Linked DNA regions of Homo sapiens. The protein of the gene in region 2 purifies or fractionates together with the protein of the main gene of each other region. This does not show direct contact. Each region holds a gene or a part of one and is shown on either strand. Other genes may lie near its edges. The genes, in order: HDX, POLR1E, IFT81, RPRD1A, CRCP, CCDC138 and RPAP2.

What was found.
Region 1: the proteins of POLR1E (region 2) and HDX purify together in Homo sapiens (co-immunoprecipitation; one large-scale study listed by IntAct). This does not show direct contact.
Region 3: the proteins of POLR1E (region 2) and IFT81 purify together in Homo sapiens (affinity purification with mass spectrometry; one large-scale study listed by BioGRID and IntAct). This does not show direct contact.
Region 4: the proteins of POLR1E (region 2) and RPRD1A purify together in Homo sapiens (affinity purification with mass spectrometry, with the first as the bait; one large-scale study listed by BioGRID). This does not show direct contact.
Region 5: the proteins of POLR1E (region 2) and CRCP purify together in Homo sapiens (affinity purification with mass spectrometry, with the first as the bait; one large-scale study listed by BioGRID). This does not show direct contact.
Region 6: the proteins of POLR1E (region 2) and CCDC138 purify together in Homo sapiens (affinity purification with mass spectrometry; one large-scale study listed by BioGRID and IntAct). This does not show direct contact.
Region 7: the proteins of POLR1E (region 2) and RPAP2 purify together in Homo sapiens (affinity purification with mass spectrometry, with the first as the bait; one large-scale study listed by BioGRID). This does not show direct contact.

Annotation. Positions count from the first base shown.
Region 1 is NC_000023.11:84,320,628-84,324,804, forward strand, and holds part of HDX (highly divergent homeobox), read right to left. Parts: intron 1,388-4,177; coding exon 1,262-1,387; 3' UTR 1-1,261.
Region 2 is NC_000009.12:37,488,271-37,492,447, forward strand, and holds part of POLR1E (DNA-directed RNA polymerase I subunit RPA49), read left to right. Parts: intron 1-1,044; coding exon 1,045-1,130; intron 1,131-4,011; coding exon of another isoform or gene 4,012-4,105; intron 4,106-4,177. UniProt on the Homo sapiens protein: Component of RNA polymerase I (Pol I), a DNA-dependent RNA polymerase which synthesizes ribosomal RNA precursors using the four ribonucleoside triphosphates as substrates.
Region 3 is NC_000012.12:110,214,530-110,218,706, reverse strand, and holds part of IFT81 (intraflagellar transport protein 81 homolog), read right to left. Parts: intron 664-4,177; coding exon 481-663; 3' UTR 1-480. UniProt on the Homo sapiens protein: Component of the intraflagellar transport (IFT) complex B: together with IFT74, forms a tubulin-binding module that specifically mediates transport of tubulin within the cilium. Binds tubulin via its CH (calponin-homology)-like region.
Region 4 is NC_000018.10:36,060,912-36,065,088, forward strand, and holds part of RPRD1A (regulation of nuclear pre-mRNA domain-containing protein 1A), read right to left. Parts: intron 1-4,177. UniProt on the Homo sapiens protein: Interacts with phosphorylated C-terminal heptapeptide repeat domain (CTD) of the largest RNA polymerase II subunit POLR2A, and participates in dephosphorylation of the CTD by RPAP2.
Region 5 is NC_000007.14:66,148,810-66,152,986, reverse strand, and holds part of CRCP (DNA-directed RNA polymerase III subunit RPC9), read right to left. Parts: intron 780-4,177; coding exon 630-779; 3' UTR 1-629. UniProt on the Homo sapiens protein: DNA-dependent RNA polymerase catalyzes the transcription of DNA into RNA using the four ribonucleoside triphosphates as substrates.
Region 6 is NC_000002.12:108,849,150-108,853,326, reverse strand, and holds part of CCDC138 (coiled-coil domain-containing protein 138), read right to left. Parts: intron 2,693-4,177; coding exon of another isoform or gene 2,637-2,692; exon of another isoform or gene 1-2,636.
Region 7 is NC_000001.11:92,326,275-92,330,451, reverse strand, and holds part of RPAP2 (putative RNA polymerase II subunit B1 CTD phosphatase RPAP2), read right to left. Parts: intron 1-4,177.

The DNA.
Region 1 (4,177 bases), on a different chromosome or scaffold from region 2:
TTTAACCATGCAACACAATTGCACACTGCCAAGTCACAAATATATGACACTGTGGGCTTAGGGAGAAACTGACATTTTTTCTTCTATGGGTCTTGGTAATACCATCTGGTACTCCAGAAAGGAAGAACTACAAAGAACAGTCTACAGTGTGTTGCCATCTGGTACCTACTAATAATAGAAAACTGGGTAGCTTGCCCATTTTAGGTGTGTACTCATAGAATAGTATTCATGGAATTCAGAAGACTGTGATTTACAACCAAAGTAGTATAACTCTTTTTGAATACTATCCTTGGCTGATGGCTCTGTACAGGCCTCATATGGAAATGAGGTAAATTTTGTGGCAAAGCTGAATGACTAAATTTTTAAAAAATCTCAGCAGCTTACCTTGACTTCCTGTTTCATAACATGTAAGAACTAAAAAAGAATTATAAAGATGGTGATAAATTTAAAATATTTGTGTAACACTTCATCTAACCCAGGTATACAAATTTACTACTGGAATGTCAATCGTATCAATACTTGTCATTTGTAGTAATGAAGAATCCCCATCAAGACTAATTTTGACAACATTTTGTTTCTGTACACTTCGTAATTTATTTGACGTTATGTTGGTTAAATTACCTTTCCATTGTGCTTCCCCACCCCCACACAAATATTTGGGTTAGATAATAGAAGAACACCAGCAATTTACAATTACATACCTGTAATCATTTAATTTTCAGTCATTAGTTTAAGTCAAATTTTCATAGGGGTTAAAAACTAAATCAGAGAACTCATTAAATAATGAGTTAAATAATTTTTTAAAGTTTTGTTTTAAATGTTCAGTCCACTTTCCTGAGAAAAAGTGTAAGTGGATGATAGGAAAAGGAGAGAAGAAGAAAGAAGATGTAATGGCTACAAAAACAAGACTAATCAAGCTGTAGCAACTTGATAAGCAATGCTGAAATGTCTTTAGTTATTTTGTCTCTGGTTAGAAATTAGACATAATGAATTTCAGGGTTAAACTGCTGAAACTTAAATATAATTTTTTTCCAGAGTTCCATCAGTTAAAAAAATACTCTCTCAAACAATGCTTTTAAATTTCACCTACATTTTTGTTGCACTGTAGCCATTATATCTTGTACATTCTTCACAGAATACGTCCGTTTCAACAATGTGTTTTCCCAACTAAAGAATACCAGGGCAACAGAATGCAGTTATCTTGAAATGCACACCTGTTACGAAGCCAAAAGACTGTATCATATATTCCCTCCAACTGAAATCACAAACTTTCTGAGACATTTTTCTCTGACAAAGAAGATACACTGAATGAGGTATCATCAGGCTCCAGTGAGGCATGATTGAAATCCATTTCCTCTAATTCAGGAGGTAAATCTGACAGCAGTGCCTGAATAAAAAAAATAATATTTTTGGATTAGTATGTGGATAGATTGTTTTCCAATTTATATTAATAGTTGTAGTCCTCCCATGGTGAATTATCCTTATGGATTTAAAGAATAATTTATATTTCAGGATCTTAGACAATGCCTTACCTAAAAGAAAAATTCTTCATACATTATTCAGAAGGTAACAAAATTCTAGATGTTGAAAGTGTGAATTCTGTAGAGTAGAACCTGTACAAAGGGGATATTAGGAGGGAAATGAGCAACTCTTCTGAACCAAGTGCTTTGAAGTGTTTGAGGTTAGTGATTTTCATACTAGTTTTGAGTGTGCATTGATCACTGTTTAAGGGATTTAAAATTGCGTTCTTTGTTAAAATATTCATGCCAGTTATGCTGTCCTTTGTAGAAGACTGCATTTAACAAAAGACTATTTTGTTCTTCAGTGGGAGAAAGAACTTAGTAGTTAGGAAAAACCTCCAGCTATTTTACTTTAGACTAAATTTTAACAACTTGAAAAGACCAAGTAATTTTATTTTTTCTTTCCTAAGGCTATGTTCATACCTACAGATGGCCAAGCACCCACCAGGGCACAGCTGAATCAGTGGATCTATCTGTAGTAATGATGTATCTGGAGGGCTACTCATTTCTCTGCTTGAGTAATAAGGATAATCCAATAATGATGAAATAAGCTTTGTCATGGTCTAATTGTTTTATCTGAAGTTGTAGAACATGCACCCATTCTAAAGAAATAAATGATTAATCAAGTTTTACGCAGCTGACAATGCTAATGTTCACTTGACCATGAGGAACTTTGAACTTAATGATTGATTTGCTGCTTCCAATACTAAGAATAATGTAGCATATCTGGCAATTTTTAGACAGTATTACTTGTAATGTGGGCTTTGGGTGCAGTGGTAAATAAAGACCAAGGGAACAGGAAGAAATGAAAGCTTGTCACTAGCCAATTAAGGAACAGAAAGGGCATGTTGGAGAATATATGAAATCCACTGTTGAAATAAGACAGTATGCACTCATTCTCTTTATTAAAATAAGTGGCAGCTGCAAATCCTATACTTCCTGCCTTGTAGCACAGGGGCAAGATCAAAACATTCTCATTTTTATCAGGCTATGTAAGGGAAGACTAACCCCTATCTGGCAGACTAGCTGTTATTATTTATTTTATAAAATTGAATTTCTCATTAATTTATTGCTGGAACTGAGAGTATATACACAGTAAACTAACTTAAAGGTAATGCCTGCTTTCTAAGTGGCTAGATTGCAGTAATAGGACACGGAGCCATTTTCTCCTAGAAAAGTGTTTTACCACTAACCCAGTCCCAGTGCAATGGGGTCTTTTCTGACATTGGCTGATCAGTCTATATGACATACATCACTGGATTTAACTCGCTTTGCAATTCTGAAGATGCCATATTAAAGAGGAGAAAGTGTTCAAATTAACATTGACTGAACATGTTCTTAGAGTCAGAAAGTCAAGAGAATAAGATTTCATGATATTCTAATTTCTAATTTCTAGTGGGGAGATTACAAATCAAAGAAGCATTATTATTTATTTCTTTGTTACTGCATTATAAGTAGTTGAGTAAAATGAGTGCAGTAAAAAATATAAAAATTTTAATATCTGAGGCAGCATAGGGCACAACTAATACATGTGGTCCACTTTAAAATTCTTCTTTCAATATCTTACTAGATTTGCAACTGAAAAAAATCTTTGGATTATAACAATTGTTGGAACTGCCTTTTTCACAGATACTAACGTGAATACGATTAACTTTCTTTATTACAAATGTTTCATAAATGACAACTATCCTCAGGGTCTGACCTACGGTCATTTTTCCCAAGAGATTAAAGCATTTTCCATATGCTCAGATCTATAACACTTATTCTAGACCCTATGGTATGAATATCAAGTTCTGTAGTATTAATCATTCTTATCCCACTTGCAAAGTGGAGAAATTGAAGTTCAAGAAACGCAATTGATCTGGCTAGGAACACGCAGTGAATTATCAGGGGAAGCAAGACCATAGCAAATGACTAAGTATAATGCTGAAAATATTACTTTGATTTTAAAGTGGCTATTGATTTAAATAACAACAACAACAAAATCTTTGGGTAATCTAGTGTTTCAGTCAGAGAGTATCACATTTTGTAAACCCTGGACTACTTCAATGGTCCAAAATATTCTGTGGACCACACATCTGACTCAACTTACACAAATCAAGATTAATGGAAGAAAACTGAAGATCTTTTTTAAAATTAAAAACCAGTGACATGTGGTTGTCTTTTATTAGGTAGAATAAAAATTAACTCCTTCCAGAAATAAACCTATAAATATTTCATGATGTAAAGATCAGTAGTTTAAGCGATTACCTAGATAACTTTTTTGGACTACTATTCGTGTCTTCTATATTTTGTGACCATATTCTAAGATTCATTATACTCATTCTTAATTATACAAATTAGTAGTTTCTATTTGGTGCTGATTATACTGGCTATGAAGTTCACTACAATTTTTGAATCATGTTCTCTTTCAACCAACTTTTGTCCATATACTAATTTATTAGTCTTTAATCAGAGGGAAAGAAGAGGAAGAGAAAAATAAAAATGCACATTAATTACATTTGTTATTGGTCTTGGGAAAAGAACCAAACCAGGAATGAAGTTAGAATTAGAAAATAAAATGGGGTCTGTGTACTATTCCTAGATGTCAAGAGGCACAGAAACTTGCTAGTTACTTGGCCATATAACTCTCAATTCACAACCATGCTATGACTTTC
Region 2 (4,177 bases):
ACAGGTAAAGAACTTGGTAGTGTTGAAGGCTCTGGACTGGGAAAGAGGAGCCTGGGATTCCCATCCAGCTGTGCTGCTGATTGACTGAGTGGCTGGGTAACTCTGCGCATCACTGACCCCCAGCCTCCCCCTCTGTACAGTGAAGATTGTCCAGCCTGAACTGTATCACTCTCGGGGGCTGGCATGATGCAGACAGGGCCCTGTGATGGTACCCAACAATGAACTACAAACTAGGCCCTTTCTGAGCCCCGGTGGACCATACTCCAATAGAGGAGAGGTCAGATGGGTGTATAGGTGCTGAGAACTATTAACCCTGCACTCTCCCCTCTCAGAGATGCCCTAGTTCCAATTGGTCTCCTCCCCGTTTACTTGATTTTGCCTCCATAAAACTGTTGTGCCATAAATTGTAGTGTAATTCTAGGTTCGTACACCCCAAAAGAGTTTTCCATTACACTACCGCAGTGAGCCCAAATGTGATCAACTATCAGAATCACCTAGTAGCTTTTTTTTTTTTCCCAGAACCACCTCATATCCTCCCATCCCATCCTATCCTTTCCTATTCCCTCTCTATGCAGAGAATTGCTGTGGGGTAGGGGTAGGGGAGATTATTGTTACCCATGAGTAGATGATGCATTCCTCAGGTGTGTGGGCAGAGAGAAGGTTGAGAACTTTTGAACAGGAAACAGGGCCAGGTGCAGTGGCTCACGCCTGTAATCCCAGCACTTTGGGAGGCTGATAGGGTCAGATCACCTGAGGTCAGGAGTTCGAGACCAGCCTGGACAACATGGTGAAACCCATCTTTATTAAAAATGCAAAAATTAGCCGGGGATGGTGGCGTGCGCCTGTAATCCCAGCTACTCAGCAGGCTGAGACAGGAGAATTGCTTGAACCCGGGAGGTGGAGGTTGCAGTGAGCCGAGATCATGCCACTCCACTCCAGCCTGGGTGACAGCAAGACTCTGTCTCAAAAAAAAAAAAAAGAAAGCTGTACAAATAATGCTTTTGAATAATCCATTGTTATTTGTATTATTTCTTCTTTATTCAGGCACTTTGTGGGAATTTTGAACAAGACCTCTGGCCAAATGGAAGTATATGATGCTGAATTGTTCAACATGCAGCCACTATTTTCAGGTAGGTCCCAGTCATGAAAGCTGACAGAAATAATGCATAGTTTGGGTTTGCTGGATGAGTTGGCTTGAGTTTTAGATTTATAAAACACATTTTATAGTTATTTTAATTTATTTATTCTGTTTTTTCTGCTTTGTCTGTGTTGAGAAAATGGTTTTTTATATACACACTGTTTTTTGTTTTTTGTTTTTTTTGAGATGCAGTCCCACTCTGTCACCCAGGCTAGAGTGCAGTGGTGTGATATTGGCTCGCTGCAACTTCCACCTCCCGGGTTCAAGTGATTCTCCTACCTCAGCCTCCCGAGTAGCTGGGATTACAGGTGCACATCACCACACCCGGCTAATTTTTGTATTTTTAATAGAGACAGCGTTTTACCATGTTGGCCAGGCTGGTCTCAAACTCTTGACCTCAGGTGATCCACCTGCCTCGGCCTCCCAAAGTGCTAGGATTACAGGCGCTAGCCACTGCGCCCGGCCTAGAGTTTTTTATTCAGCACACACTTATTGATAACCTAATGTACCAGGCACCAAGCTGGGGCTGTGGATGTGGCAGTAAGCAAGACAGACACAGATCCTGTCCCCATAGTGTTTAGAGACTTGAGGTCAGAGGTTCATAAAAGCAATCTGAGCAATGATCAGAGCAGAATATTAGAGGACATGTCTGATATAAAATCTTTTCCATAAAAGAACTTCCTTCATTCTTTTTATTTTTATTTTTTATTTTTGTAAATTACTTTATTTCTTCCTTGATCATTTCAAGGGACTATCTTCAAACCAGTACAAATATTTCATACGTAATACCTGGCCATTTTCTAAACAATCGAGGAGTTTGTTGCACAATAAGCTACCTCACGTCTTTCAGCAAGAAATACATTAAATTTGAAGAGTAAAGACATTACATAATGAACTAGGACATAATTAAAATTTGCCTTAAATATTTCTTTGGGGGAGAGAACACCACACTTCTACTCAATGAAGAGAAACATTTTTACAGTCCAGAGGTCTTTCATTTTTTAAACACCTGTCACGCCATGAATTCATAGGGAATAGGTTCCAGCAGCTCAGGCTGCTTCCCATTGGTTCTCACCAAGTGTGCTTCTCTGGGTGGAGCAGGCTGGCGCTTCAGTTGAACCCAGGTACCTTTCTCTTTTGCTTCTGTCTTTTTCTAATCATCTTTCTTCACCCGTTTCATGAAGCTTTCTCGGCTCTTAGAGTGCTTAATGTGCTCAATACGCACACTAATTCTCTTGGCAAGAATCTTGCCCTTGTTTGTTTACAACAATGCCAGCAGCATGCTAAACTGTAGACGCTTCCAGTTTAGCCATGGTAACACTTGAGGGGCATTCCTTTTTGAACAGTACCCATTCCCTTGATGTCTACGATATCACCTTTCTTATAGATTCACATATATGTGGCCAAAGGAACAACTCCATGTTTTCTAAAAGGTCTAGAGAACATATATTGGGTGCCTCTCCTCTTTCCCTTTGTGTTTGTCATTTTGATGAATTACTGCAAGATGGCAGTTCTGGCCGAAAGGGTTCTTTCTTAATTCTTAACTGTTATAGTTGGGGTAAAGAGGTTTTAGAATTTCTGGTAGACAAAGGAAATTGCTTATTAAGTTGTATAGTAACTTTCACGTTGAGGACAAGTCTCTACACTAATTTGAGGAAGATCTATTTTTTTTCCCTAATCCAGTGGAAGAATTTACATTGTTTCTCTGCTTTGTCATCTTAGAATGCTCAGGGCTAGAGTGAGATCTTCCAAAATAATAAATAAAAGGGTCACACTCAAGGGGCTTCTGTTCCTTAAATCTCAGAACTTGAATCCTTAGTGATGCCCTTAAATACTGGGAACCATGGCAGGATAGGGCGATAGACAAGAAAGAAACATTGGGAGCATTGTGAATCTGCCTGATACCTCAGAGGCATTAGTTCCAGTTTTATTCTCTCAAAGCAGTGCTTCCATCCCTTTTGAGAATCTGCTAAGGACCTGGACCTACTTCTGAGAAACATATATGATACACAAATACATATATATGGGATTTTTTTTAATATGGGATTTTATACATAATTTTTTTTTTTTTTTGAGACCCAGTCTCGCTTTGTCACCCAGGCTGGAGTGTAGTGGTGCAATCTGGGCTCACAGAAGACTCTGCCTCCCGGGTTCTAGCGATTTTCCTGCCTCAGCCTCTTGAGTAGCTGGGGTTATAGGTGTGCGCTACCACACTCGGCTAATTTTTGTATTTTTAGTAGAGATGGGGTTTCACCATGTTGGCCAGGCTGGTCTCAAACTCGTGGCCTCAAGTGATTCACCCACCTTGGTCTCTCAAAGTGCTAGTATTACAGGTGTGAGCCACCGTGCCTAGCCAAATTTTACACGTAATTTTAAAGGTCTCTTGAGTCCGGACACCCATCTGTGAATTTCCTAGGTGTCCCCCTGCTTTGCAAACATATATAACTATATTTAAATCATCTTCCAACTGTTCTTGTAAAATCCAGGGAGGCAAGGAAAATTGTAATTTAACGTGTTGATTAAACATATTTTTGTTGTTATATGTAAGAAGTTTGTAAATATGAGTTTATTCTAGGTAGCACACACACAGAGATAACATTTAAGTCCTTACTATATGCTAGTCACTGTTCTAAGCACTTTCCATGCATATACCAACCTTCTGGAGTAAGTACTGTTGTTCTTTTTTTACCAGTGATGAAACTGGCACAGAGGTTAGATGACCTTATCAGGGGTGATGGCTGAGATAACAGGCAAGGCCACTCCAGAGCTTGTACTGTTGTGTACTAAGTTATACTGCCCTTATTTGAGTACTTTGTAGATGATTGGAGAGCATCGGTAAGTACCACATACCTCATGTTTATGCCTGCTTTTAGGTCTTTCACCAAGAAAGCAAAATTATTTTCTGGAAAGAGCCAAGGACTTGTTTTCTAATCCTGTCTCTGCCACTACCTGGTGAACTGACCTGGGGCAAGTAATTTCATCTGTGGGCCTTCTGTTTTTTAATTTCTAAAATGAAGAGGTTGGGCTGGATGACCGCTT
Region 3 (4,177 bases), on a different chromosome or scaffold from region 2:
ATTTTCTTGCATTTTACAGAAGAAAAATAAACTGAAGTAAAACTGTAGGAACTGCTGAACGTCAGATAAATGTTTCTTCAGAACAAGAGATATTAGTTCCTAAAAGATTCTTCTAAAGTTTTTTTAAAAGAGATTAAGAAAAACAGTAAGCCACTGGGTTATTACATTCTAAAAAAAAACTACATGTTTCTTAATGGACATATGTTTACATTTACAGATAGTAAACTTAGTTTCCTGTCTCATAAAACTCAGAAGACGCCAGTGATGTCTAAACTATGGAAAAGAATAAAAGCCTCTTTTTCATATGAAAAAACATTCAAACTAAATCTACCTTAACATTATTTTCTATGAAAACTTAATAAAGAATGGCTCTTCTGAAAACAAAATGCTATACAAATCAGTTTCAAAAAAGAAATACATTATGAGATTAGGCTTATAGCTAGTGGTATCAAGTAAAACCCCAAACGATGACACAAGAATTCACAGTATTAGCCGGTCCTCCCCACCCTCCTGAATTACCTGACCAATGGAAGTTTGGCTTTGTTGTTTCAGAAAGCACTGTTTCTTACATTCCATTAATTGTTCCAAATCACGCCACATTTTTGCTTGTTTCATATTTGGACCATGACTTTCTCGTATAACTTTTTGTTTTTCCCGAAGTTTCTATCATTAAAAAAAAACAAGAATAATTAAATCTCAGTTACAGGGGTTTATTTCTATTGCTATAGTCGGAGGAATATGGTATGTTTTCTACAGTAGATAAAAAATAGTTAGCTAAACCACATACTCTATAATGTACCAAAACTAAGATTATAAAAGTTAACTAAGGCCAGACGAGGTGGCTCATGTCTGTAAACCTAGCACTTTGGGAGGCTGAGGTGGGCAGATCATGAGGTCAGGAGATCAAGAGCTCTACTAAATCCAACACTAAGTCAAACTGTTTGCCTTTCTAGTTCTCCAAAAAAATACAAAAAAAAATTAGCCAGGCATGGGGGCACGCGCCTGTAGTCCCAGCTACTCGGGAGGCTGAGGCAGGAGAATCGCTTGAACCTGGGAGGCGGAGTTTGCAGTGAGCCGAGATCACGCCACTACACTCCAGCTTGGCAACAGAGCAAGACTCTGTCTCAAAGAAAATACAAAAAACAAAAACAAACAAACAAAAAAAACTACACAAAACTATAAAAGGAAGTGAGAGAAAAAGATAGTTAGGAAAGTGGAACAGTATCATGGTGTGAAAAGAAGAATGTAGAGTTTGGAAGTCAGAAGACTTCGGTTTTAATCTGGTTTTGTCTCCTCTAGTGGTAAGCAAGGCACTTAATTTCTTGGGACTTCAGTTTTCTCAATTATCAATTAAGGTTAATAGACCAGGCATGGTGGCTCACGACTGTAATCCCAGCACTTTGGGAGGCTGAGGCGGATAGATCACTTGAGGTTAGGAGTTCGAGACCAGCCTGATCAACAAGGTGAAACCCTATCTCTACTAAAAATACAAAAATTAGCAGGGCATGGTGGCGTGTGCCTGTAGTCCCTGCTACTCAGGAGGCTGAGACAGGAGAATGGCTTCAATCTGGGAGGTGGAGGTTGCAATGAGCTGCAGTCGTGCCACTATGAGACTCTAAGTCAAACTGCTTGCCTTTCTAGTTCTCCAACAAAAACCAGCTAGGAGGATATACATGACATATTACTCAAGAATGTACAGTTATAGCTCATATAGCTTTAAAATAATTCATTTATTAGCCTAAGCCTGAGAAATGTCCACATTTTGTTTTAGAATTTCCATTTACATAAAAATTTCTCAAGAAACCAACAGGATCAGTATATTCTATATACTAAAACCTAATACTTATTTATTCAAGATATAATTATGAAGCACCTGTTATATGTCAGGTATGCTTGGAGTTTCAAGTGGAAAACAGGACTCATGCTATATAGGTGGGCAGATCACCTGAAGTCAGGAGTTCGAGACCAGCCTGGCCAACATGGTGAAATCCCATCTGTACTAAAAATACAAAAATATGAAATACAAAAATTAGCCGGACATGGTGGCATGTGCCTGTAATTCCAGCTACTCAGAAGGCTGAGGCAGGAGAATTGCTTGAACCTGGAAGGCAGAGTGAGCCAAGATTGTGCCACTGCACTCCAGCCTGGGCAACAGAGTGAGATTCCGTCTCTGGAAAAAAAAAAAAATTAAGGTGAATAATAGGAGGCTGGGGGCTGGGCACGGTGACTCACACCTGTAATTCCAGCACTTTGGGAGGCCAAGGCAGGAGGATTGCTTGAGCTGGGGAGTTCAAGGCCTGCCTGGGTAACATGATACTCTGTCTCTACAAAAATAAAAATTAAAAAATTATCTGGGCATGGTGGTGGCACATGCCTGTAGTCCTAGCTAGTTGGGAGGCTGAGGTGGAAGGGTCACTTGAGCCAGGAATTTGAGGCTGCAGTGAGCTATGCTCTCACCACTGCACTCCAGCCTGGGCAACAGAGCGAGATCCTGTCTCTTAAAAACAAAACAAAACAAAACAAAACAAAACAACCAAACCAAGGCTAATAATAGGGGAAAATAAAAGTATTTACTTGGTAAGATTATGTTTTCAAGTGACATAATAGATATTGAAATACTTGATAAATTATCATGTATTATATATATCCTTGTTATTAAATGTTATATTCTATCTTATCCTGAAACAGTGTATACTCTATTTATGTCCAAATAAATCAAATTGTATGCACATATACTTCAGAGAGCAGGCCCAGTGATTACGAAAATAGTACACTATTAAATAAGCCAAAATCCTTCTTAGAATTGTTTTTGTTACTAACATCTTAGATGGTCCACCTGCCAAAACTGTTTTACTCATTGACTCTAAAATTTTAAACAGGAATAAAAGAATCTTCAATAAATTACAAAAATATACTTTAGTTCTATATTATGGCAAATTGAGGAAGGGTGACTGAAAGCAAGAGTAGACACAAAGTCAGAGACAATAAGTGACACGGTAGGAAAAAAGAGAGAGAGAATCCAGCCTGGGCAACAAAGTGAGACGCCCCTGTCTCTACAAAAAAAAAATTTTTTTTTAATTAGTTGTGTATGGTGGCACATGCCTGTGGTCCCAGCTACTCAGGAGGCCGAGGCAAGAAGATCACTTGAGCCTGGGAACTCAAGGCTGCAGTGAGCTGTGACCATGCCATTACACTCCAGCCCAGGTGACGAGTGAGACTGTCTCAAAAAAAAAAAAAAAAAAAAAAAAAAAAAGAAGAAGAAGAAGAAGAGAAGAAAAAGAAAAGAAAGGAATTCATTCATAATCCCATGTGCTAGAGACAACTACAGTTGACATTTTGGTAGAGAAGGTGAAAGTGCACATAGAACGAAATGCAGTGTGTTGGAAATATCTGTACCGACACCGAGTGTGAGAAAATCACCAAGAGGGACAGAAAAGCAAGCAGAGACACAGAGGCAGAGTGCAAAGGAACAACCTCATCCTTTCCTCTTTTAACATACGGTCAATATACTAGTTGATCTGAGACACAAATGAGAATGCTGGTAGTTGGTACTTGCCTAAATAAGAGGATTAACTAAGCTGAGGACCAGAGTCAAACCACCCATTAAATACTGCCCACCCAGCTATGCATAATGAAAGCAAAGTTAACAGCAAACAGGAATAGAAAACAACACAGAATTTTAAAAATATAAATATAACCAGTAAATTTTTTGATGCAATACCTGGCATATTAATACATCTATTTAAGTTTATGTTACAAATAATGTATCTTACAACAAATATTTTATCCTTATAAACTAAAAAGTATTTAGAAAGGCCATTAAGGCAGACCAAGAATTTTAAGACTTCTGCACACGATTTTAAATTAAGGCACTACTTAACCTGTAACTTTTCTTATATCATTGGAATAATTTCCTTGTCAAAAAATCCTAACAACCTATAAAAGTTATTTAAAGAACCAAAGACAGGATGTGGGCACTGTCTGTGTCAGAAATATTAAATTTAATTTGCTTCATAACCATGTGTGTTTGAAACCTTTAACTTTATGAATACAACTGATGTTAGTATGTATATATTTTAAATCTTATTATCATTTACATTTGTTTACAGTTGCAATGTACAAAAATTACTAATCACTGATTTCATTGTTCTTTAAAGGAGGAGATGGTGGTATAGAA
Region 4 (4,177 bases), on a different chromosome or scaffold from region 2:
TGAGCCCAAGAGTTCAAGAGCAGCCTCGGCAACATAGTGAGACACTGTCTCATAAAAAAAAAAAAATTTAGGAAACAAAGTTAACAGGCATTCAAAGGCTGACCATTTCCAGGTTTGGCTCTTTGCATCCAAAGCTATGTATCACCTCAGCACTTTCACATATTCCCAGTGGCTGCAGGCCCAAGCCCCCCTACCCCCGCAACTTGTTCAAAGAGGTCTTTTATTAAACGTCACCTTGCAGAGATGATTTCCCTCTAACTAAAGATTTCCTCCTTCAAAGAACTAAACACGAAATTTATATTTAAAATTTTTTGTTTATTGGTTGCCCTTACCACAAGACTATAAATTCTGAGGGCAGGGATAAACTGTTTTCCCTTTGTTTTCTTTACCATTGTAATACACAATCAATAAATACAGGGTGAGTAAACATACTTTAAGGGGTTGAGGCACTTACAGTTTTGTTAAGACACCAATATAACATAAAAGAGGCTGGTACAAAGGATACAATCACTAGACTAGGGAAGGCAGTGACCTTCACCAACTACAAAGAATTTCCTCCTATCTATCTTGTTTTGTACAGCTCTTATAGAGATCTTTCAGCGAGTGTGTGTAGAAAAGAGCCCAAATGTTAGTGTTGGTTTCTAAGTTCAGGTATGTTCATGGTCAATATTTCTACAGAAATGAATATAAATTAATGATGTATATTAAGTTTTAAAATTTAGCCTAGTATTGACTGAGACATTTACAGTTTAAAACAGTCACCTTCAAAGGACACTATTAAGAAAGTAAAAAGACAACCCACTGAATGGAAGAAAATATTTGTGGTATGAATCTAATACAATACTTGTACCTAGAATACATTGGGAACACTTACAACTCAATCATAAAAAGACAAATTTTAAAATAGGCAGAATAGACATTTCTCCAGACAACATCCAAATGGCCAATAAGTACATGAAAATAGGCTCAGTGTCATTAGTCATCTGGGAAATGCATATCAAAATCATGAGATACCACTTCATACCCACTAGGACAGCTGTAATCAAAAAGATAACAAATATTAGCAAGGATGTAGAAAAACTGGACCCTCATACACTGCTTGTAGGAATGTATTTTAAAAACATGGCCGGGCGCGGTGGCTCACGCCTGTAATCCCAGCACTTTGGGAGGCCGAGGCGGGTGGATCATGAGGTCAGGAGATCGAGACCATCCTGGCTAACAAGGTGAAACCCCGTCTCTACTAAAAATACAAAAAATTAGCCGGGCGCGGTGGCGGGCGCCTGTAGTCCCAGCTACTCCGGAGGCTGAGGCAGGAGAATGGCGTGAACCCGGGAAGCGGAGCTTGCAGTGAGCCGAGATTGCGCCACTGCAGTCCGCAGTCCGGCCTGGGCGACAGAGCGAGACTCCGTCTCAAAAAAAAAAAAAAAAAAAAAAAAACATGTACCCACTGTGGAAAATAGCCTGGTGGATCCTCAAAAGGTTGAACATAGGATTCCCATATGACCCAGAAATTCCACTCCTCAGTAAGTATCCAAGATGAAAACATATCCACAAAAAAAAAAAGCTTGTACAGGAGTGCTCACAGCAGCATTATTTATAATAGCCAAAAAGCGGAAACAACTCGAACGTCTATCAACTGATGAATGGCTAAATTCATACAATATTCTATTCGGCCATAGAAAAGACTGAAGGACAGTAAGTGGTCTTTTGCAACTGGCTTCTTTTAATTAACATGTTTTCCAGGCTCATCCATGTTATAGCATGGATGGAAAACACACAAAAGACCACATACTATATAATTCTATTCATATGAAATGGTAAAAATAGTCCAATCTATAGAGGCAAAGTAAATTAGCAGTTGCCTAGGGTTGGGAGAGATGGGGGACTGGGGACAACAGCTAAATGGCATGGAGTTTCTTTCTGGGTAATAAAAATGTTCTAAAACTGGTGGTAGCTTTACAATTCTATAAACATATCAAAAACCACTGAATAGTATACTTTGAATGGATAAAAGGTGTGGTATGTGAATTACATCTTAATAAAGAAGTAACAAAATGGTCACTTACATTTTTGGTTACACTTTACTGCATTTATCAGGAAAATTGTATGCCATTTTGGTCTTCACAAAGGCCTTGAAGTTTATCCCTCCAAACAGAAACTCTTTCTTTAAAGGAGACAAAGATAAGGAAGGTAGGAAAAGAAGGGAAACCTTCATAACTGAATGGCTACCATTATCTAACATATATAATTTTACTTATTCATTCTTATATTTTTTTGTTTGTTTGTTTTCTGAGACAGGGCCTTGCTCTGTCGCCCAGGTTGGAGTGCAGTGGCGCACTTGGCTCACTGCAGCCTAAACCTCTTGGGCTCAAGTGACCCCCCAACCTCAGCCTCCTTAGGCCTGCGCCATCATGCCCAGCTAATTTTGGTATTTTCTGTAGAGACAGGGTTTTGCCATGTTGACCACGCTGGTCTCGAACACCTGAGCTCTGGCAATCCACTTCCCTCAGCCTCCTAAAGTGCTGGGATTACAGGCATGAGCCACAGTACCCAGCTCATTCTTTTATTTTAAACAGTAGCTTCTCCCACTCTCACATTTTTGTCTTTACACACTTTGAGAAACTAAAGAATGCCTAGCTTAACACAAAATGTTCAACTAATTTTCTTTAGTTTGTTGTAATATACTTTCAAGATTGATCGATTCCTTTCATAATTATTCTGCAGAAATAATGTGATTCAAGATATGGTAAAATAACTAAAAGAATGTCTGGTACTCAGTAACTGATTGCCATTATCATTAAACTACAGGAGATGAGAATCCTGAAGTTGATGAGCAAAACTGCAGGAAAGGGGAAGGACACAAAGGCTACACCCTGCAAAAGCAGTCATCTGTCAAGAAAAGGAAACCCTTGGCAGAGTAGCCCAGGCTAATATGAGGATTAAAGCGGCAGCGGTATGTTCATCAGCATCACCGTTACTATCAACACTATCATCACTACCACCCTCCTCCTAAAGCATCTTTTTATATGCTTTAACGTTTTCCACTTATGAAACACTTAAACATATGGAAACATCACAAACCTTGCTAAAAGCACATCTTACAATTTTACCACATTTGCACCATTTTCTTAAATACATTAAATATTAGATAGCTTTCTCCTATTGAGAGGTGACAACGTCCTAGCAGCCCTTGCTCGCTCTCGGCGCCTCCTCGGCCTCGGCGTCTGCTCTGGCCGTGCTCAAGGAGCCCTTCAGCCCGCTGCTGCACTGTGGGAGCCCCTCTCTGCGGCTGGCAGAGGCCGGAGCCGGCTCCATCTGCTCTCAGGGAGGTGTAGAGAGAGAGGCGCCGGCAGGAGCCTGGGCTACGCGCGGTTCCGGGTGGGTGCCTGCTGGGCTTGATGGGGGACGAGCTCCCTCTGGGCTGCTAGAGTGCCCAAGCTAGGTGCCGCAAAGTCCCGCGGCGAGTGCCATTGAGAGGTGAAGCCAGCTGGGCTTCTGGGTCAGGTGGGGACTTGGAAAACTTTTCTGTCTAGCTAAAGGATTGTAAACGCACCAATCACCACTCTGTGTCTAGCTCAAGGTTTGTAAACGCACCAATCAGTGCTCTGTGCCTAGCTAGAGGTTTGTAAACACACCAATCAGCACTCTGTGTCTAGCTAAAAGTTTGTAAATGCAACAATCAGTGCTGTGTGTCTCGCTAAAGGATCATAAAACGCACCAATCAGCACTCTGTCAAAACGGACCAATCAGCTCTCTGTAAAATGGACCAATCAGCAGGACGTGGCTGGGGCCAGATAAGAGAATAAAAGCAGGCCACCCAAACCAGCAGCAACAACCCGCTTGCGTCCACTTCCCTGCTGTTGAAGATTTGTTCTTTCACTCTTCACAATAAATCTTGCTGCTGCTCACTCTTTGGGTCCCTGCCGCCTTTATGAGCTGTAACACTCACCGCGAAGGTCTGCAGCTTCACTCCTGAAGCCAGCGAGACCACGAATCCACCGAGAGGGACCAACAACTCCGGATGGAAGGAACAACTCCAGACGCACTGCCTTTAAGAGCTGTAACACTCACAGTGAAGGTCTGCAGCTTCACTCCTGAAGCCAGCGAGACCACAAACCCATCAGAAGAAAGAAACTCCAGACATGTCTGAACATCAGAATGAACAAACTCCGGACAC
Region 5 (4,177 bases), on a different chromosome or scaffold from region 2:
CCCGTTTTCAACTGCAGTGATCTGGTCCCTAACATTTAGCCTAAACAGTGAGCTGGTAAACAAAGCCCCTGCCAGCAGAGAAAAGGGGCTCTAGAGCTGTTGAAGGATTGGCCAGGCCGGTTCTTTTCTTATCTCTGTTGTTCTCGAGGAAATTCCTCTAAGGTGAGCCAAGGTCAGTGGCTCATTTTAACTTAGAGTAACTCTCTGGGGACTCTAACCAGACTTCCAACAGTGCTCTGGGCCCCTTAGTAAGTTCCCAGGGAAGCAGATGAAACTAATTAGGACATGGCCCACCAAAGGCGACACAAGCATTTTCCCCGCTGTGCACAGAGACCTCCCCACAACTGGGGCAAAGGCCGTGGAGGAAATCTTTCAAGCACAGAGGGGTCCGCGGTCACTGTCCCCACCTTCAGCTCTCTGCCCTGACAACCTCAGCCTGTTTTCACCATGTTTCTTCTCCCCAAGGCACAAATATTTCTTTTTAACTTATTTTTGTGATGTACCCAACTAACCACAAAGCCAGGCCTGCTGGGATGAGGATAAAAATCAAATAAACAATCCTCTCAACGTCCAGGAAATGGCTGCCAGGCCTTCTGACTTCATGAAACGCCGGGGCCAGCTGTGCTCTTCTATGCTGGGTCCTCTTCGTCCATTGCCACATTGCTGTTTGTATTCTTCTTCTGCTCAGCCTCTGGCTCTGCAGGCAGAATGCTGGTGACGGTGTGGAGAAGAGCTTCAATCTGCTCCTCCGTGAGCCGCTCTTCACTCTCTTCCACCATCTGCAGAAGGAAAGAAAATCCTCCAGGGTTACAAATGAAACTTACAGCCTTGGGCAGCCCTGCCCACTGTGCTCATGGTCTCAGCCCGGCCTCCTGGCACACAGACCTCACAGCCTGGGTCCTCGTGAGTCCTCTCCATCTTACAGACGGAAGGGTGGAGCCAAGTCACATCCTGGACTGAGCCAATGCGACTGATCAAAATGGGTCAGTAAAAACCAAGTTGTAGGATAGCATTTTTCTTTAAAGAAAAGGAAAACCCCCAGCCTGGGAAGCACAGAGGAACCCCATCTCTTAAAAACAAACAAAAAAAATCAACCAAGCATGGTGGTGTGTGCCAATAGTCCCAGCTACTTGGGGGGCTGAGGTGGGAGGATCACTTGAGCCCAGGAGGTCGAGCCAAGCACTCCAGCCTGGGTGACAGAGCAAGACTTTGTCTAAAAAAAAAAAAAAAAAAAGAAAAGAAAAAAAGGAAAAAGCTAAGTTATATAACCACACACACACACACACACACACACACACACACACACACACACAGAGAGAAGTGGTGAACAGGTTGCATATGCATCTCGAAGAAGTTAAATGGCACTTTATGTACTTTTATATTTCACAAGCACATCTGTAATTTTTTTTTTGGGGGGGCAGGACAGAGTCTTGCTCTGTCGCCAGGCTGGAGTGCAGTGGCACAATCTCGGCTCACTGCAACCTCCGCCTCTCAGGTTCAAGCAATTCTCCTGCCTCAGCCTCCCGAATAGCTGGGACTACAGGCACGAGCCACCACAGACAGTTAACTGTTCGTATTTTTCGTAGAGACGGGGTTTCACCATGTTGGCCAGGATGGTCTCAATCTCTTGAGCTTGTGATCCACCCACCTTGGCCTCCCAAAGTGCTGGGATTACAGGCGTGAGCCACTGTGCCAGGCACACATCTGTAATTTAATGAACTGTATCAGCAACACGGTTGATGATGCCCACTATGTGCCAAATGGTTTGGAGCCTTCTTCTAATCCTCACTCCCACTAGCAACAGCCCTGCAGGGAGGCCTCCCATGTGTCTGGAGCTGCATCTTGCACTTCCCATCCGGCATTTCCTTTCGTCCTCCCAACAATGCTGCTAAGGGGTAGAACTGGAATCCCCAGCCAGAACTGCCCAGTCTAAAACCCACAGTCCCCCACGTTGCACACCACACTGCCCATCAAAGGTCCACATAAAACCTGGTTTCTGATGTGGTCCCAGAAATCTGAATCTAGAGATGATACTCACAGCCTGAGCCAGTTTCCTTAGCTTCGCCCCTAATTCTAAACAGAATTAGGTCGTCAGCTGCCTTTTTAAAAGCAGCAGGCAGGCAGTCAAGTTGCTTAACCCTGTTTGCTTGGTGGCATCAACCATCAATCACAAACACCTTTCTCAGCTCAAGGTGGCCAGATTCTATTCCATGGCATTCCCCACAGCAATCTCTGAAATCCGGCAACTGGGACCACAGGGAGTTCCAGAAAGAAATCCTGGCAGACTGAAGTAAAACAAGATAATAAGACAGGCCTGCAATCCTGGAGAGGATCCCAGTCTGACCACCTCCCTTTACAGACAACAGCACAGTTCAGGAAGTCATGTGACACGCCCAAGGTCACACCACGAACTCCTGGCAAAACCCTGGTCTCTCCACTCACTTCAGCCCAAAAGTGTTTCTGCAACTAGATAATAATCCTGGTGTCCCAGGATGGGGGAGATCCTGAGTGAATCAATGGGGGCTACTCCCTATGATGCTGTGAAATAAAATGACCATTTTCTAAAGATTCCATGGCTCAGGAAAATGTAAATTCTCTTCTGAGAAAGAAACAATCTTCAACTCCCCCCCTTCACTCTTGTTGCCCAGGCTGGAGTGCAATGGCATGACCTTGGCTCCCTAGCAGCTGGGATTACAGGCATGCACCACCACACCCAGATAATTTTGTATTTTTAGTAAAGACAGAGTTTCTCCATGTTGGTTAGTCTGGTCTCGAACTCCTGACCTCAGGCGATCCACTCACCTCGGCCTCCCAAAGTGCTGGGATTACAGGAGTTAGCCACCGCGCCCGGCCAAAAACCCATTTTTAAAATCAGACATGGGGCCGGGTGCGGTGGCTCACGCCTGTAATCCCAGCACTTTGGGAGGCTGAGGTGGGCGGATCACAAGGTCAGGAGATCGAGACCATCCTGGCTAACACAGTGAAACCCCGTCTCTACTAAAAATACAAAAAATTAGCTGGGCGTGGCAGCGTGCGCCTGTAGTCCCAGCTACACGGGAGGCTGAGGCAGGAGAATGGTGTGAACCCAGGAGGCAGAGGTTGTAGTAAGCCAAGATCGTGCCACTGCACTCCAGCCTGGGTGACAGAGTAAGACCCACTCTCTTTGGGGAAAAAAAAGGTGGGGGTGAGGGATAATGTAGTCATTGTCATTTATCCTAGTGATCCAAGACGTGCTAGTAAGTTTTTTATTTCTGAAAGTTTCTTTTTTGTTTATATTTCATTTAGTTTAATGCAGCTTAGGGTTTCTTCCTGTGACTGGGAACCTTAGGTTGAAAAAAAAGGTCTTGACTGTAATTAAGGAGGATTGGATGTTGATAAAAGCTCCGGCCGTTAGTGAACTTAGCAAAATTCTTTTCTGCACATTATTTTCTCAAACGGAGATCATCTTTTCTCCAGGTTAAATAATCAAATCTTGGCTATTTCCCTCCTTTCCCTGCTTTATTCTTTGGGCGCAATCATCACTTACTGCAGTCTCAAACTCCTGGGCTCAAGCAATCCTCCTGCCTCAGCCTTCCAAGTAGCTGGGACTATAGCTATGTGCCACCATGTCCAGCTAATTATTTTTTATTATTTTTTGTAGAGATGGGGTTGCCCAGGCTGGTCTTGAACTCCTGGGCTCAAGTGATCCTCTCACATCACCCTCTCAAAGTGCTGGGGTTATAGACATGAATCACTGTGTCCGGCCTTTCACCTTTTCTTTCCAACACAGGAGAAACAGTCCAAATAAAGAAGTAAAGTTCAAAGCACCATCTCAAGGTTCTCAGATACCAACCATTTCAGGTAGTTGAGAACATAAGGGGAAATAAAACTTAAAAATCCAAAGTATCAACAGCTGGGTTAACATAAATGATACATTTATTATCTCAATCCCAGGAGCATCAAACCGGGTTGCCGACCTCCAAAAATGGCAACTTGAAGTCGCCAAACCTAAAGTCCTACTTTCCTCAAAATGATTCAAAGATCTGATAGCAACAATGTATACTATTAAATATTTGATCCAGAACAGTTCACTGAATCTGGCTTTCTAAATTTCAACTTTCTCTAATGTAAAATGAAAGTAACGCCTACAGCGAGGACAAAAGGAGAACACATGTAACAGTGTTTTACAAGCAATAAC
Region 6 (4,177 bases), on a different chromosome or scaffold from region 2:
AAAAATCTGGGTCAATTATATTAGACTGACCCTCAGTTTGCTCTTCTGTAAAAATGACACCATGACCTACCTCATAGTTATTGCAGGGAATAAATCTGAAACAATCAAGTACAATGACTAAAACAATGCCAGCAAAGTCCAAGAACTCGGTTGATGTTCATTTTCTTCACTATTCCGATTGTGGGTCTATCAGCTATTTATCTTTTCTCATTATTACAAACAGCATATTAACACCTTGGAACATTTTTACTTTTGCAATTATTTCTTAAGGTAGATCTCACGAAAGGTTATGATGTATTTTGGTGATGTTTGTGAGCAGAATGCATTTCAAAAATATTAACTTTGATACAAACAAAATTGTGCCTATATCCTCTCAGTGACACATTATATTTGCTCATTTTACTTCTGTAATGGTTGGGTTTTTTTATTTTATTTTAGTTCAGGGGTACCTGTGCAGGTTTGTTACACAGGTACACTTGTGTCATAGGAGTTTGTTGTACAGATTATTTCATCACCCAGGTATTAAGACTAGTACCCATTAGTTATTTTTCCTGATCCTGTCCCTCCTCCCACCCTCTGATAGGCCCCAGTGTGTGTTGTTCCCCTTATGTATCCATGTGTTCTCATCATTTAGCTCCCACTTATAAATGAGAACATGTGTTATTTGATTTTCTGTTCCTGCATTAGTCTGTTAAGGATAACGGCCTCCAAGTCCATCCATGTCCCTGCAAAGGACATAATCTCATTCTTTTTAATGGCTGCATAGTATTCCATAGTGTATATGTACCACATTTTCTTTATCCAGGTTATCTTCGATGGGCATTTGGGTTGATTCCGTGACTTTGCTATTGTGAACAGTGCTGCAATGAACACAACACATGCATGTGTCCTTATAATAGAACAATTTCTATTAGTTTGGGTATATACCCAGTAATGGGATTGTTGGGTTGAATGGCATTTGTCTTTAGGTCTTTGAGGAAATGCCACACTGTCTTCCACAATGGCTGAACTAATTTACACTCCCACAAACAGTGTACAAGTGTTCCTTTCTTTCCATAAAGAAGAGTTGTATCTTACAGTTAAATTTTATTTCAGAGATTGAGCATCACATACTGATTGTGTGCAGCTAAACTTTTTTATGCCTCAATTTCCTCATTTGTAAAATTACAATAATAATATTGACATCTCATGAACTGTTGTGAGGATTAAATGAGTTAATATATATAAAGTGCTCGGCCTATAACATAGTAAGTGCTATGTAGGTGTTTATTTCTTTGGTTATCTCAGGAAGTACATGCTCTTAGGTAGTCATAAAATAGGCTTAAGAAGGTAGGCTTCAGCAATTGATAGAGGCTAAATTAGGCTCTGTCAAATGCAGATTGTATCGTTTTGGCACAATTATCTACCTTTGTAAACCTCATCACTAATATGAGGATAATAGTATTCAGAGATAAGGTATAAAGAGCTTAGTATCTGTGGTGTTATGATATATATATATAGGTTTTCGTCTCATTAGTCTTTGTTATGATGTTGGGTGTGTTAGGCCTCAGGGGAAGGTCTCTGACCTTCTCCTGCCCTCCTTTCACTTGGCCCAAGCCAGGACTCTAATCTTTCCTGGACTTTCTGATTGTGGGTCTTAACATCCTCCCCAGAGAGAGTCCAGCCCTATATCCTGGTGGACAGAATTGTGATGTCAGGAAGCCTCCATAAAAACCCAAGAGAAAGGCCGGGCGCGGTGGCTCACGCCTGTAATATCAGCACTTTTGGGAGGCTGAGGTGGGCGGATCACCTGAATTCAGGAGTTCAACACCAGCCTGGCCAATGTGGTGAAACCCCATCTCTACTAAAAGTACAAAAATTAGCTGGGCATGGTGGCAGGCACCTGTAAGCCCAGCTACTCGGGAGGCTGAGGCAGGAGAATTGCTTGAACCTGGGAGGCAGAGGTTGCAGCAAGCCAAGATCACGCCATTGCACTCCAGCCTGGGCAACAAGAGCAAAACTCCATCTCAAAAACAAACAAACAAACAACAAAAAACAAAACACCCCAGAGAAATGGGTTCAGAGAGCTTCCAGACGGCTGGACATATGGAGATTTCTGGAGCGTGGTGCTCCAGGGAGGGGACAGAAGTTCCATGCCCCTTCCCCTATACCTTGCTCTGTCTCTCTCTTCATCTACATCATTTGCAATATCCTTTATAATAAACTGGTTAAGTGTTTCGCTGAGTTCTATGAGCTACTCCAGCAAATTAAACCCAAAGAGGGGGTTGTAGGAACCCCAATTTGAAGCCAGTTGGTCAGAAGTTCCAGAGGGCCGGACTTGCAACTGGTGTGGCACGAGGCAGCCTTGGAGACTTGAGTGCCCAACTTGTGGGATCTGACACTATCTCCAGGTGGATCGTGTCAGAAGTGAATTGGAGCAGCTTGTGTCTGCTGCTTGGTATGTGGGGAAAAACCTCCACACATTTTGTCACAGAAGTCTTCTTCTGTGTGGATGATTATTGTCATGTGGGAGTAGAGAAAAAACACAGTTAAAGAGTTTTCCCTAGACAGCACTGTGGTGTCAAAACTCACCAACTGGCCAGGCGCAGTGGCTCACGCCTGTAATCCCAGCACTTTGGGAGGTTGAGGCGGGCAGATCATGAGGTCAGGAGTTCGAGACCAGCCTGGCGAACATGGTGAAACCCCGTGTCTACTAAAGATAGAAAAAATTAGCAGGGTGTGGTGGTGCGTGCCTGTAATCCCAGCTACTCAGGAGGCTGAGGCAGGAGAATCGCTTGAACCTGGGAAGCAGAGGCTGCAGTGAGCCAAGATCGTGCCACTGCACTCCAGCCTGGGCGACAGGGTGAAACTCTGTCTCCAAAAACAAAACAAAACAAAACAAAAAAAACTCGCCAAGTATTATATATGCTGATTCTTATATGAACAGTCTATTCAATATAACTAGGTATTATCTTCATAGATCTATATATATCTGGATTAAGCAGTTAATATTATGTGTAGTATCCAATGCATCTGCCTATTACCCAACACATTTGCCTACTTTCTCATTTTCTACTAAATTTATCAAATTTGAAACTGATGTTCCTATTTTATAAATAGGAAACATCTTCTTACTAGAGTTAAGTCTACTCTTAGGATTTAAGAGTTTTTCTTATGTTTAAATGTTTAGTTCTCCCAGAATTTTTTTCAGTATATTTAACGATAAAGGATAAATAGCTGTATCATGACAGTGTCTGACAGTAGTTCCGAGGACCATCTGGCTCTGACATTTCTTCCTAGGTGCTGGCATGTGCTGGGATTTGGCCAGGACAAAGGCCCCTTTTACACTTGTATTCACTGGCCCATGCATCCTGTTGAACCCTCCTAGCCCCAGGTCTTGTGTGCAGGCACACCCCACCTGCCTGCAGCTACTGGAGAGAACACCTGCAGTCAGAAAGTGCTCTTCTCCCTGAGACTCATCAGCATTCAGGCTTCTTTCTTGATGGCAGCAGCATGTACCTTGGCCCCAGGTAGTAGATGAACACTGGAACCCCACAGGTTTGGGCTCATAAGAAACCCTTGTGCCTAGGCTGGGAGAGGCCAGACTATAAGGAAAGGGAGAACTCTTGTATCTCTTCCTTGTTCCACAGTGATTAGTGTCAGATTTTTTTTTCTTTTTCTTTTTTGAGGCCACCAGGCTGAGGAGCCTGCAGCTTTAAAGGGTATCTGTTAGGCAGGAACCTTGTGAGAAAGAATCGTTCACAACAAGTGTGAAGGGAGACTAGAGAGTGAAGGCAGGGAGACGTGTCAGGGCCTGTCTGTGGTCTAGGGAGAGGTGATGAAGCCACTGAAAAGGTCATGGAGAGTCACCATGGGAGGCAGTATTCCTGAAATCCAGTGGCCAGGGTGTGGAGGAAAGGGATGGCACACATGTATCTAGAGGAGGCTAAGGAAAAGGGAATAGGAGTGACCATGAGCTCAGCTGGACATGCTCCTTGGATTTGTGTGTTTATAGTTTTCACCATATTTCAAAAATTTGGAGCCATTATGTCTTGAAATAGTTTTTGTCTCCCCTCTTCATAGACTCTAAGTACATAATATTAGAATATATGATTTTGTCTCAAAACTCACTGATGTTCTGTTTTCTTTTTTGTAGATTTTTTTTCTCTGTGTAATTCATTTTGGACAGTTTCTATTG
Region 7 (4,177 bases), on a different chromosome or scaffold from region 2:
AAAAAAAAAAAATTGACAACCCACAAAGAAAATCAGAGGAAAAGATAGTTCAATGAGTGATCTTCTAAACATTTAAAGAACTAACATTAATTTTAGACACATTCTTCCAGAAATGGAGGGAACATTTCCCAACTTGTTTTACCAAATGATTACAACCAAAACCTGATAACGATATTACAAGAAAGGAAAATTATAGGCAGTGCAAGGTATCTTCATTCTGAACAATTTTCACCCTTTTCCACCTGTCTTTGTACTTCAGAAGGCTGATCTGTATGGGCTGCATCAATGGGCTTCCTTGCTCTCTGGCTTTTATCTCAGTTTTGCCAATGAAGAATAAGAAACTGGACGGTGCAGAAGAGTCATTCCCACTTGGTCCACTACAAGCAGCACTTCCTTGGTACAAGACCTTGTGGTCCACTCCTACCTTTTTCCTTGAGGTCTAGGGGTGGTGAGGGCTCTCAAACTATGATTAGTGTATCATTCCTTTGGTTTCCTTCATTCTGACCACATTTTCACGCTTTGGAAAACAGTCCTATAATTAAACTTTCCTCAGATTACTTAATTTGTACCATGTGATTTATGATGAGACCATGACCAATTCATACGCTAATGTCACTCATTCTGAAAATATGTGCAAAAATTCTAAGGCAAATATTAGGAGGACCAAATCCAGTATTATATAAAAAGGCTATTATAGCTCAATCAAGTTGAGTTTATTATAAGAATGCAAAGTTGGTTTAATATTAAAAATAAATGTTAGGTCTGGGAAAAAATAGCAGATAGGAGGCAGGACTAACTTGCAGTTCCCACTTGGTCAGACAGAGCGGCATGTGGAGACTCCCATCATGAACTTTTGCTCCAAGAACTACCGCAGAAACATACCAGAAAAGGCAAGGAACTGTGAGTCAGCTTGCTTTCTCAGCTGGGAGGCCTGTAGCCTGGGGCAAGTTCTCAGCCCTGCTCATCAGCTGCCTGGAAATAAACTTGGTGCTGTTGTGGGGGCACGGTGGGAGTGAGTCTGGCCTTTTAGGCTGCAGGCTGTGTGGAAGCTGGGTGAGGCCTGTGGTTGCCAGCTTTCCCCCACTTCCCTAGTGACCTGTGTGATGCAGCAGAGTCAGCCATAATCCACCTGGGAACATAACTCCATTGGCCTGGGAATCACACAATGGTACCCCCACCTGATGGTCTTTCTCTACTGGCCCTGGTAGCCGAAGACAAAGGACTTAATCTCTTGGGAGCTCTATGGCCCTACCCACTGCCTGACCCCAGAGCAAGCTTGTATCCTCCCTATCCTACTGCAGCTGATGCACTCTTGAAAGCACCACCTCCTGGCTGAAGGCCAACCAACACAAAACCAGCGCACTTAAAAAAAATACAATTAAGGACCCTCACAGAGTCCACTTCACTCCCCTGTACCTCCACTGGAGCAGGTGCTGGTATCCACAGCTGAAGACGGATCACATCACAGGACCCTTTGCAGACACTCCCTAGTACCCGCCAGAAGCCTGGTAGCTCTGCTGGGTGGCTAGATCCACAAGAACAATAACAATCACTGCAGTTTGGCTCTCAGGAAGCCCCATCCCTAGGGGAAGGAGGAGAGCACCAAATCAAGGGAGCACCCTGTGGGACAAAAGAATCTAAACAGCAGCCCTTGAGTCCCAGATCTTCCTTCTCACAGTCTACCCAAATGAGAAGGAACCAGAAAAACAATTCTAGTAATATGACAAAACAAGGATCTTTAACAACCCAAAACATCATACTAGCTCACCAGCAATGGATCCAAACCAAGACAAAATCTCAGAATTGCCAGAAAAAGGATTCAGAAGGTCAATTATTAAGCTAATCAAGGAGGCACCAGAGAAAGGTGAGGCCCAACTTAAAGAAATCAAACAAATCATACAGGATATGAATGGAAAAATCTCCAGTGAAATAGATAGCATAAATAAAAAACTATCACAACTTTGGGAAATGAAGGACATACTTAGAGAAATGCAAATGCACTGGAAAGTCTCAGCAATAAAATTGAGCAAGTAGAAGAACTTCAGAGCTTCAAGACAAGGCTTTTGAATTAACCCAGTCCAACAAAGAAAAAAGAATTTAAAAAATGAACAAAGGCTCCAAGAAGTTTGGGATTATGTCAAACAAACAAACCTAAGAATAATTGGTGTTCCTGAGAAAGAAGAGAAATCTAAAAGTTTGGAAAACATATTTGAGGGAATAATCAAGGAAAACTTCTCCAGCCTTGCTAGAGACCTACACATCCAAATACAAGAAGCTCAAAGAACACCTGGGAAACTCATCATAAAAAGATCATTGCCCCGGCACATAGTCATCAGGTTATCGAAAGTCAAGATGAAGGAAAGAATCTTAAGAGCAGTGAGGCAAAAGCATCAGATAACTTATAAAGGAAAGCCTATCAGATTAACAGCAGATTTCTCAGCAGAAACCCTATAAGCTAGAAGACATTGGAGTCCTATCTTTAGCCTCCTTAAACAAAACAACTGTCAGCCAAGAATTTTGTATCCAGCGAAACTAAGGTTCATAAATGAAGGAAAGATAGTCTTTTTCAGACAAACAAATTCTGAGAGAATTCACCACTACCAAGTCAGCACTACAAGAACTGCTAAAGGAGCGATAAATCTTGAAACAAATCCTGGAAATAATACCAAAATAGAATCTCTTTAAAGCATAAATCTCACAGGACCTATAAAACAATAAGACAATGAAAAAAAAAAAGCTGTTCAGGCAACAAATAGCACGATGAATAGAATAGTACCTCACATCTCAATACTAACATTGAATGTAAATGGCCTAAATGCTCCACTTAAAAAATACAGAATGGCAAAATTAATACGAATTCACCAACCAAGTATCTGCTTTTCAAGGGACTCACCTGACACATAAGGATTCACATAAACTTAAGGTAAAGGGTGGAAAAACATATTCCATGCAAATGGACACCAAAAGTGAGAAGTAGCTATTCTTATATCAGACAAAACAAACTTTAAAGCAACAGCAGTTTAAAAAGACAAAGAGGGACATTATACAATGATAAAAGGACTAGTCCAATAGGAAAATATGACAATCCTAAATAAATATGCATCTAAACCTGGAGCTCCCAAATTTATAAAACAGTTACTACGAGACCTAGGAAATGAGATAGAAAGCAACACAATAATAGTGGGGGACTTCAGTACTCCACTGACAGCACTAGACAGGTCATCAAGACCTGTTCCTGAATGATCACTAGGTCAACAATGAAATCTAAGTAGAAATTAAAAAATTCCACTGTGGTCTGAGAGAATATTTGATATAATTTTGATTATACCCTAGAACAAATGGATTTAACAGATATTTACAGAACATTCTACCCAACAACAGCAGGATATACATTCTATTCATCAGCACATGGAACAGTCTCCGAGATAGACCATATGATAGGCCAGCTGAACTTTGTAACAATTCCAAATGAACAGGAAGTCTCCTGGCCAGAACTCAAGGGAGGGTGTGAATCTGGTGTGCAGACTCCACAGGCTGGGAGATGTGAAAGCCCTACTTGTTCTCACAGGTGAGAGGCTGGTAGCCTGGGGCAAGTTCTCAGCCCTTCCTGCCCACTGCCTGTAAACAAACTTGGTGCTGTTTGAAGGGACATGGTGGGAGTGAAACTGGTCTTTTGGGTTGCATGGGAGCTGGGTGAGGCCTGCCACCAGCTTTCCCCCACTTCCCTGACAACCTGCATGACACAGCAGAGGCAGCCATAATCTTCCTGGAATAGCTCCACTGACCTGGGAACCACACTCCCATCCCCCACAACAGCCACAGCAAGCCCTGCCCAAGGAGTCTTGAGTTCAGACGCACATAGCCCTGCCCCCATGACGGTCCTTCCCTACCCACTCCGGTAGCTGAAGACAAAGGGCATATATTCTTGGGAGTTCTACGGCCCTACCCACAGCCTGATCCTCCCTATACTACCACAACTGATGCTCTCTTGAAAGTGCCACCTTCTGGCAGGAGGCTAACCAGCACAAAAATAGTACATTAAACAACCAAAAGCAAGGATCCTCACAGAATCCATTTCACCCCCCTGCCATCTCCACCAGAGCAGGTGCTGGTATCCATGGCTGAGAGATCTGCAGACCTGACCTAAGAGATTATCCAAGTGGTCAATAAGCAAATA